Linked DNA regions of Homo sapiens: region 2 is linked to region 1. Evidence: fine-mapped expression QTL. A gene starts in region 1. The other region holds a variant in brackets. All regions are shown on one strand. Distances are from middle to middle. Region 1 holds the start of RAB37 (RAB37, member RAS oncogene family). Region 2 overlaps CD300H (CD300H molecule (gene/pseudogene)).

Region 1 (5,214 bases):
AAGAAAGAAAGAAAGAAAGAAAGAAAGAAAGAAAGAAAGAGAAAGAAAGGGAAAAGAAGGAAGGAAAAGAGAGGGGAAGGAAGGAAGGCAGGCAGGCAAAGAAAGAAAGAAGAGAGAGAGAGAGAAAGGAAAGAAGGAAAGAAGGAAGGAAGGGAGGGAGGGAGGAAGGAAGGAAGGGAGGGAGGAAGGGAGGAGAGGGGAGGGGAGGGAAGGGGAGAGAAAAGACCGCATACCAGGCCAGGTGCGGTGGCTCACGCTTGTAATCCCAGCAATTTGGAAGGCCAAGGCAGGCGTATCGCCTGAGGTCAGCAGTTCCAAACCAGCCTGTCCAACATGGTGAAGTTCTCTACTAAGAATACAAAAATTAGCCAGGCGTGGTGGCGTGCACCTGTAGTCCCAGCTGCTCCAGAGGCTGAGGCAGGAGAATTGCTTGAACCTGGGAGGCAGAGGCTGCAATGCGCCAAGATCCCGCCACTGCACTCCAGCCTGGGCGACAGAGTGAGACTCCGTCTCCGGGAGCCCACGGCATTGAGCAAACCTCGGCATTATTTGCAGCAAGAGCCTCTGGCATCCAAATAGCAACCAACACCACGCCTCTGTAGTGTGCTGCGCAGCCTCCACACTCCAGTCTGAGGCTCCCTGTTTGAGTCCCGCCCTATGCCCAGCTGAGGTTATAGCACGCTCACCTCCAGAAGAGGTAACCCAAGCTCTTTACTCTACTGGAGATCACCTCTGTCCCCACTCTGGGCGCTTCTCCCAGCTGACAGAAAATACCTCCAGCTGATGTCAGAAAATACAGGGCTGGAGGCTGGCGTACAAAGTCAGTCCCCACAGGCCTATGGTGGCCCATAAGCCACGTCTACCCCTGCTCCTCACCTCCACACCTAAGTTAAGAATTGCAGGCCGGGCGCAGTGGCTCACGCCTGTAATCCCAGCACTTTGGGAGGCTGAGGTGGGCGGACCGCCTGAGGTCAGGAATTTGAGACCAGCTTGGCCAACATGGCAAAACCCCGTCTCTACTAAAAATACAAAAAGAAAAAATAGCCGGGCCTGATGTCGCGCACCTGTAATCCCAGCTACTCCGGGAGACTGAGGCGGGAGTATAGCTTGAACCCGGGAAGCAAAGGTTGCAGTGAGGCGAGATCGCACCACTGCACTCCAGGCTGGGCGACAGAGTGAGACTCTGTCTGAAAAAAAAAAAAAGTGCAGGTACCCCTCTCCAGCTCTCCCCTCCCTACACATCCCTCAAACCGTCCCGCTGTAATGCACCCGCCCTGTTCCTTGGTAACTTGAAGCTGCTTATAGAATGTGGAGATGGGGGTAATTGAAAGGTCGGCCCAGGCCACAGAGCCCCTGAGCTCTGCTACCGGCAACCCCAGCTGCACTCCCCACTCTCTGTCACCAGGAGCTGCCGGGTGCCTGGGATATCCTGGCAGCTCTGCTCAAAATGATCTACGACTTCATGAATTTATTTGGCTCCTCCTCGGGGCCAGGGTGAGTGTCATGGGTTAATAAGGCCGGCCCCGCCTTCAGGAGCGGTCCACTGGGAGATGTGTGCTGCGCAGCCCTCTTGCGAAAGCTCTCCCCTGGTGGGACATTCTGGGCACAACCAACAGGCCGGGGGAAATGAGAGGTGATCCATACTAAAGGGTCAAAGTCCCCGCACCAGGCAGAGGCCCCAAAACACCGCAGCGTACATGTGCTGCAAGGCGAGTACGGGTTGGTAAACAAAACTATATTCAGATGAGCTCGGGCCGGGTGACTTAACAGATGAGGAAGTGTCTCGGGGCCATCGGCGGAGGCGCAGCCCAGGGGTCCCCAGCTCCCCGCCTCGCCACCTGGGGACAGCCCACGGCCCGGGGCTCGGGCGCCGCCTGCTGTCGCGGTGCGCAGCGACTACGGGAACTCTTCCGCAGCAGACGGGGTCCCCGCGGCCCGCTCCCCCAGGGGCAAGCAAGCGACCACAGGGGACCGGTCCCGGGGCTGGATGTGGCTCATGTCCGAAGCGCACGGAGCCGAGCCGGTGTTGCTCAGGGAGGCTGCCCGCCCCTTCACGCAGACCCTGCGGCTCTGCGTGCCCTCAGGGAACAGCAAGGTCCGAGCCGGTGTCGTCGAGGGGGCGACGGGACGGAGGGAGGAGCCTGAGGGGTCCCGGTCGAGGGAGGGGAGGAGTGGGCGGGGCGGGGGTGGGGCCGTTCCTGCGCTCTCCTTCGCCTGCGGGCCGGCACTGCTCACCTCTCGTCCAGGGACATGACGGGCACGCCAGGCGCCGTTGCCACCCGGGATGGCGAGGCCCCCGAGCGCTCCCCGCCCTGCAGTCCGAGCTACGACCTCACGGGCAAGGTGGGTGGGCCTCTTCCGTGAGACCCCCGCCCTCCTCGGCGCTAGCCCCTTCCTGGCTGCGTCTGGGTTGGACTCAGCCCTTCCCCCAGGCAGCTGCGTCTCCCAGAGGAGGGAGGGAGAGAGGGTCAGGACACAGCCTCTGGGGCCGTCCCAAGCTCTAGGTGTCTCTGCTGGCTTGGTGGGGGCGGGTCGCGGAAGATCGCAAAAACTGAGTGATCCCCCCGCCGGCCCCAACTCAGTTCTCTTCTGCCACACTCTGGCAAATATGAGCCCCCGGGAGCCCATGCTTCTTGGTGAGGGTTAAGCGCGCAACTCTCGGGGCTCAGGCTGGGAAGGGCTGGGAGATGGGGACCGAACGGAGACTCGGAGAGGACGTCCCCTGCTGGCAGAGGAACTGGCGTTAATGCCATTTTCCGAGCTAAGCTCTTAGTTGAGATCTGACATCCAGGTTTAAGGCCTGATGTCCCCCAGCTGCTCCCCTCCCATTCCACCCGCTGGAGGCACTGCCTCCCACCTTCCTCCCTGCAGTCGGAAGCCGCTCCTCCCAGAAGGATGTTGCCAGCCGGCCTGCAGGTCACTTGGGAATTTTTCGAACCTGAGAAAGATTTCAGTGGTTGGTCTTTCGCATCCCGCACTTGAGAGAGCTCCAGGGCTGCTCTCTGGGGCTTGCTCCCTCTACAGGGGTGTCCTGTATGGAAACAGGTAGGGACAGCAGTGGACTGGTCTGTCGCCTTCCATCTGTGTCCTTGGAGTGAGCGGGTACCAGAAACTGAAAGAACTGCTGAGGGAGCCTAGAGCTTCCACTCTTCCTCTGCAGGGTTGGGGATGGAGTGAGGGCTGTCCTGGATTCCGCTGCATGGCCTTGAAGGAGACCTGCCTCTCTCTGGGCCTCGGTTTCCTCCCCGACACCAGGGCTCACCCTTGCTGGGAGCCTCAGCCTCCACCCCAGTGTTTCGGGGGAAGCCACCCTGCAAGTCATCCGCCCAGAGCCGTTGAGATAGGCGTCCTGTGTGGGCTTGTGGCAGGAAATGGGCCCCTGCACCCTCGGAGAGGAGGAGCTGCTGTTGGCCAGGCCCCAGGCTGAGGGGGACTGCCTGACCTTGTTGCCCTGCAAACCAGCTGGGTTGTTTGCCTAGGAGGTGGCCAGGCTAGGCAGCTGTTTGTGTTTGGTGGAATCACCGAGCTGGGTGGGTAGCTGGCATCGTTTGCTCAAGGCAGCTGTGATCTGTAAAGTACACAAAGACTGGCCCTCCCTCCCTCCTTCCTGCTCCAGGGCTGGGACCCAGGAGCCAGGGAGGAGTGCAGGCTCCAGAAAGCTCCTATCCCCCACCCCTTCATCTGTTCCCTGGCCAAGCGGCATTGGCCGGAGAGTTGGTCCCCAGCCTCCCCGGGCCTGCCCCAGGGGAGTGAGTCCAGGACCCTCTGAGAAAGCCTGGCAGGAGCTCCTTGGACCAGACTAGGGGTGATGTGGCCCACAGGCAGACAGTTCCCACCCTGGGCCACTCTTCCCTGGGTCTTAGGTGATTCACCACGATGATGGGCCCTAGCCATTAACAGACTCTAGAAATACCTCAAAGACATTATCCCTCCTCCTTCTACCCACTATGGAAACCATGCCACAGAAAGGTTAAGGAATCTTCCTAAAGTCACACAGTAGGCCATTTACAAATCAAGACCCATCCTTCATACCCCTTCTGCTCAGCCACCCCTGCCTCTCCACCAGAGTTAACTAATGCCAGTACCCCATGCCCACAACAGGAATGCCTTTGGGCTCCACTGTCAATTTCAGAGCCTCAAAAATAATTCAAACCTAGTCCCTGCTTAACCCATTAAGCCACCTAACCAGCAGCTGGGAAATTCCAGCATTGGATCTAGACCCCTGTTATCCAAGATTGGAGAACAGTGGGACAAAGTGCTCCTCTCCACCATTCCTGCGTGTCCCTGGGGAAGATGAGCAGAGCAGAGCCAGACAGTAAAGGAGAGGGCCACGCCCCCTCCACAGGTTACCTCCTTGGTACTCCTGCCCGCACTACCCACAGCAACCCCGGGATGCCGATCTGCAGCCACATGTCCCATGTGGGAGGTTTCTGCTGAAAGAACTTCCAACTACACATCTCCCCACTTCAGTATAAATTTCAACCTTCCCTAATTCATGCAACCTTTTTTTTTTTTTTTTTTTTTTGAGACAGAGTGTCGCTCTGTCACCGAGGCTGGAGTTCAGTGATGCAATCTCGGCTCACTGCAACCTCTACCTCCTGGGTTCAAGCTATTCTCCTGTCTCCGCCTCCCAAGTAACTGGGACTACAGGCGTGTGCCACCACTCCTGGCTAGTTTTTTGTATTTTTAGTAGAGATGGGGTTTCACCTTGTTGGTCAGGCTGGTCTCAAACTCCCAACCTCAGGTGATCCGTCCACCTTGGGCACCCAAAATGCTAGGATTACACACATGAGCTACTGCACCCGGCCTCATGCAACCTTTTAATAAACATAAAATGTCATTAGAAACTTCCAGTCAGGCGCGGTGGCTCACGCCCGTAATCCCAGCACTTTGGGAGGCTGAGGCGGGCGGATCACCTGAGGTCGGGAGTTCAAGACCAGCCTGGCCAACATGGAGAAACCCCGTCTCTACTAAAAATAAAAAATTAGCCAGGCGAGGTGGTGCATGCCTATAATCCCAGCTACTCAGGAGGCTGAGGCAGGAGAATCATTTAAACCTGGGAGGTGGAGGTTGTGGTGAGCCAAGATCTCGCCATTGCACTCCAGCCTGGGCAACAAGAGCAAAACTCCATCTCAAAAAAAAAAAGAAAGAAAGAAAGAAAGAAACTTCCAAATAAATGTTGTGACACAAAAAAAAAAACCCAAACAATATTCA
Region 2 (5,214 bases), 170 kb before region 1:
AGGGTGCCCAGAGGGGTTAATCTCCAGTGACTCCAGTTACTACGGGGATAACCCCTTCATTACAGCACATTTCACCGCCCTTCCCCTTTCCTGGTCTCACTTTCTGCTCTCTCAATGTACTTCTTGAGATTACCTCTCAATAAACAAATTGCTCCTAAGTCCTTGTCTCAGGACCTGATTTGGGGGAAACCCAAACTAAGACAGTCCCTTTGTTCTTTGTTTCTGTGGAACATCTTGTATTTCCTTGATAGCCCAAATCATGCCCCACCAGCTTCCCACACACTCTGGCACCCTATCTCTTTACACCTGCTTTATTTTCCTCCACAGTAATTATCATTCGTTGACATATTTCCTTGATCTATCGTCTCTCTGTCTCTATTACATATCTCTCTCTGCCAGCTATCATCTCCATCTGTCTTTCCAGTCAGCCAGCCAGCCATCTCTATCATCTTTCATATCATATCTATCATCTGTCTGTTTATCTATCTATCCACCTATCTATCTATCTATCTATCTATCTATCTATCCATCTATCTGTCTGTCCACCTGTCTGTCTGTCTATCTATCTATCCATCTGGCCATTGCCTGAATCTACCTATTTGCAACTTCCTCAAGAGCACAATCTTGCCCCTTTGTTCACTGTTGCATCTCTAGAATCTCCATCAGTTTCTGGCGCATAACAAATAAACACCTGTTGGCCGAGCACGGTGGCTCACACCTGTAATCCCAGCACTTTGGGAGGCCGAGGCGGGCAGATCACGAGGTCAGGAGATCGAGACCATCCTGGCTAACATGGTGAAACCCCCGTCTCTACTAAAAATACAAAAAAAAAAATTAGCCGGGCCTAGTGGCGGGCGCCTGTAGTCCCAGCTACTCAGGAGGCTGAGGCAGGAGAATGGCGTGAACCCGGGAGGCGGAGTTTGCAGTGAGCCGAGATCGTGCCACTGCAGTCCAGCCTCGGCGATAGAGCTAGACTCTGTCTCAAAAAATAAATAAATAAATAAATGTTGAGTGGGTGAATAATCAAGGAAACCTGTGTCTAGGAAGCCCCACCCTAGGAAAGAAGCTGCACACATGGCAAAAGACACTGGGACACGTGCATTTTACCCTTGGCATTGGCTGGGCCTGGTGGGAGATGCAGGTGTCTTCACAGAGTTCTCAGTACTGGAGGCTGAGGATAAAGAACAGAGGTTCAGTGCCCTACGCCTGACTCTTCCCAGCTGAGTACCTGGTACCTGCATGGTTCTGACTTCATAAAGCAGAGGACGCTCAAGGAGGCAGCTGGACAGATGTTCTAGGACCATCGTCTTCCAATAGGCAGACCAAAGCCTGACTGGAGTAACAGAGCATCCCCCCAACCCCATCCCAATGGATGCCCTGCTCTGGGGCCGGGTGGGCATTTTATAAACCCAGACCAGAGGATGACCACCTTCTCCCATGTTGGTGTCCCCCATCTCGCTGAAAATCAACATGCCGAAGGTTAGGCTTAGGTTCCAAAACCCCCATCCTTGCCAGTGTATCCACACACCACCACTACCCTCCAGCACACACTCTCTGTCTCACACACACTCTCACACCTGCACACACACTCTCACATGTGCACTCACGCAACTTCACAAATACACTCACACGCCCACTCACTCACACACGCCTGCTCTCACACACACTCTCACATGCACACTCACACACCTGCTCTCACACACACACCTGCTCTCACACACACTCACACACACCTGCTCTCACACACACCCACACACCAGCTCTTGCACACACTCACACACTTGCTCTCACACACACTCACACACTCACACACCTGCTCTCACACACACTCCCACACTCACTCACACCTGCTCTCACACACTCACACTCACACACACTTGCTCCCTCACACACTCACACACACTCACACACACCTGCTCTCTCACACATTCACACACACCTGCTTTCACACACACCTTCACACCTGCACTCACTCTCACATGTTTGCACACAACTCACAGTCACACACTGAAACACACTTACACTGTCCCACTCATTCAAACACACATGTATTTCCCACACACATTCACACAACATACTCTGTCCTGAGTCTCTGATGCACCACACTAGGCCCAGTTCTTCTCTCCTGGGCCAAAATTTCTGTGGCTGCTCTGCAGAGATGGCCTCAGATGCCTGAGAAAAGAGGCTCTTACCCGATGAGACCAGCACTTGAACCTGGAAGAAGGGATCGGGCAGGAAACCAGACAGGCCATCTTCCTGCAGTATTGTTGCAATCCCACATCGGTATTTTCCTGCATCGTCTGCCGTGAGGTTCTCCAAGGTCACGGTGAAGGTGAGGTCTCCAGGATGGTCCGTGATGATCACTTGGTCACTCCTCACCACTCCCTCAGACCCTCCGGTCTCCACCATTTCATGCCAAATTGGCAAGCATGGTTGTCTGCACCAGTATTTGTTAAACGTCTTGTATTTCTCTTCATACCGACACTGAACACTCAGGGATTCCCCCACGGCGCCCATCACGGTGCTGGGGCCACTCACAGTCAGACAGCCTGGAAAACACAAGTCCGTTTCCCCGTCTTCACCTGGAAGAGTCTGGACCAGTGGAACCTTGAGTGTCAGGTCCTCTGCACGCCCAGTGTTGCCTGAGGCTGGAGGAGGGAGGAGTCGGGAACCAGGGAGCTATGGGCTATTTGCAGGGGGAGACCCAAGGAGATGCCCGGTGTGGGATCCTGAGACTCCAGAGGCCATGCCAGCCTGGGTGTGCTCAGCCATCTTATAATATCAGGGGGAGAGGCTTGACCTCGGTGGCCTCAGACAGGTTCTGGGTCCCCCAGAAGTGTCAGTCCTGAGAAGAAACACCTGTCCTCATCGAACACCAATGATTGAATGAAGCCACTAAGTACACTCTGAATAAATGGATGGCTGGAGAGATAGATGGATGGATGGATGGATGGATGGATGGATGGATGGACGGATGGATGAAATAGGAAAGGAAATAATATTGAGAACCAGGAAAAACCAGAAGCAGCCCAGTATGGAGGGCAAGGAGGAAGCCTGGGGCTTCTGGTTCTGCCCCTTTCCCAAATCATCTGTGGGCCTCATACTTGCCATCCC[T/G]GCCCATATAGATGAGGCCTCCTGCTCCCAGGTCTGGGTCACAGAGAATATGGGGGCTGCCCATGGGGATATCAAGGGGCCATGTAGAAAGGAGTTGTTCTTGTGATTCAAGGACATTTACGCCTGGAATTTTCCCCCGGGACAGAATCCTGCAGCAACACTCGCCATTGCCTAACATCTGCAGGGCTCCGCTCCACAGGGACACCCATCAGAGCTTCCTTCCCACCCCCAATTCTCTGCAGCACCCACCCGCCTTGGCATGTCCTGGGCCTCTTCTCCAGGTCCTCTGCCCCCTCCAATATTTCGACATTACTCTCCCTCTTCGAGTCCCCTCTCTCATTCCTCCACCCACTCTGCAGGCTCCGGGTCCAAATGATTGGGACCCAGCCCCATCAACTCTCTGCTTCCTGCCTCGGGGGCCTCACCAGTCCTAAACAGCTGCTGTCTCATCTGCTCTTGACAGGGAGGTGGTTAACTCAGGACAAAACGGCTATTGAGAAATGGTTTTGGCAAAATACCAAGCTCCTGAAAAGGAATTGTGGATGTAATCTGTCTACCTATCAACTATCTATCTATCTATCTATCTATCTATCTATCTATCTATCTACTATCTATCCATCCATCCATCTTTCATCTACCCACCCATCCATCTAGGTAATATATTGCCATCCACTGATGGAGAGGCTTTGCTATATTTTTATTGTGAATTAAAAGAAAAATCTGGCCAGGTGTGGTGGCTCATGCCGATAATCCCAGCACTTTGGGAGGCCGAGGCAGGTGGATCACCTGAGGTCAGGAGTTTGAGACCAGCCTAACCAACACGATGAAACCCTGTCCCTATCGAAAATACAAAAAATTAGCCGGGCGTGGTGGTGGGTGCCTGTAATCCAGCTACTCAGGAGGCTGAGGGAGGAGAATCACTTGAACCCAGGAGGTGGAGGTTGCAGTGAGCCGAGATCGCACCACTGCACTCCAGCCTGGGCGACAGAGTGAGACTCTGTCTCAAAAAAAAAACAGGAAAACTTTATCTTTTGCATCTTCATTTTCTTATCTCACGTTTTCTCACTTTATTTCCCAGAAAGCAGGCTCGAGTGGCCCACTGACCTATTCTGCATTAGAAAGCTGTCTGCCTCTCTGAAGCAGTGATTCTCACCTGGGGGGCAGGGGGGCGGGGAGGGGGCGGGGGGGCAGGGGGGCGGGCGGGAGAACATTTGGTAATGACTACAGATATTTTTGGTTGTCCCAACTTAGGGTGGGGAATTGCTGCTGGCATCTGGTGGGTAGAGGCCAGGGATGCTTCTAAACATCTTACAATGCACAGGACAGCCCCCAACACACAGAATAACGCAGCCCCAAATGTCCACAGTGTTGAGGTCCACGAGCTTTCCCAGGGAGCTAACTGCCTGCCAGGCACAGGCTTAGGAGCAAGGAAGGGGTGGGCACACCCAGTCCTCTCCTGAAATCGCTGCTGCTCTCAGCTCAGGCTCTGGGGGCGCTGTTAGCCTGCTCTTTCAGGTCCTTAAACTTCTCTCTTAATGATTTGGGGCTAATTCCACAAGGAGCAAAAACATTGTGGGGCACACACTGAATCCCACCACAGAGCCTCCCTCTCCTTGGATATTCAGTCCAGACCCTGACTCTGAGCCAACATGGGCAGCCTCCTCCACCTCCACCCCCACCATCTTTTACGGAGCTTCCCGCCTACCCAGCCTTGCAAAGAAACTGACTTTCTCCCTCCACCATCATTTACGGAAACTCTCGGACCAGGGCTGACCACAGGTTCCCAGCTGTCTCACCCTTCTGGGGGCCCATTAAGTAGCAGCCCTGGGGCCAGCCCAGACCTGTGGGGACACCCAGGGTTCCCACGTGGGGATGCAGCATATGCCTCCAGATATGTAAGTGAAGCTTTACAAGGAGGCGCAGCAGACATTGACATTGAATTAGAGAAGGAGCAATGATCTTGGAAATAAAAGTATTTAGGTTTGGACCTTGACTGTGCCTTTTATAAACTGTTTAATCTAAATTATTTGCACCTCTAAGAGCGAGCTTCGGTCTCTTGTTTTCATCAGGATTGCAATAAGAATTAAATGAGATAGTGGG

What was found. PIP is the estimated chance that this variant, and not a neighbour inherited with it, causes the effect.
Region 2: its variant is fine-mapped to the expression of RAB37 in whole blood (INTERVAL, PIP 0.97).

What each region holds. Positions count from the first base shown.
Region 1 is chr17:74,735,023-74,740,236 of GRCh38, forward strand. RAB37 (RAB37, member RAS oncogene family) reads left to right here and starts at 2,234. Exons shown (of 9, transcript NM_001006638.3): 1 at 2,234-2,343. The coding sequence starts at 2,251. LOC124904057 (a long non-coding RNA gene) reads right to left here and starts at 2,317. Exons shown (of 3, transcript XR_007065905.1): 1 at 2,236-2,317. RefSeq lists enhancers at 1,420-1,479, 1,866-2,589, 2,860-2,949, 3,314-4,036 and silencers at 1,720-1,889, 1,940-1,989, 2,190-2,389.
Region 2 is chr17:74,561,727-74,566,940 of GRCh38, forward strand. CD300H (CD300H molecule (gene/pseudogene)) reads right to left here. Exons shown (of 4, transcript NM_001405511.1): 2 at 2,193-2,549; 3 at 1,108-1,171. The coding sequence starts at 2,517. Among named protein-coding and RNA genes, the nearest start is that of CD300H, 3.2 kb to the right of the region's middle. The variant T/G (reference allele first, on the strand shown) is at 3,115.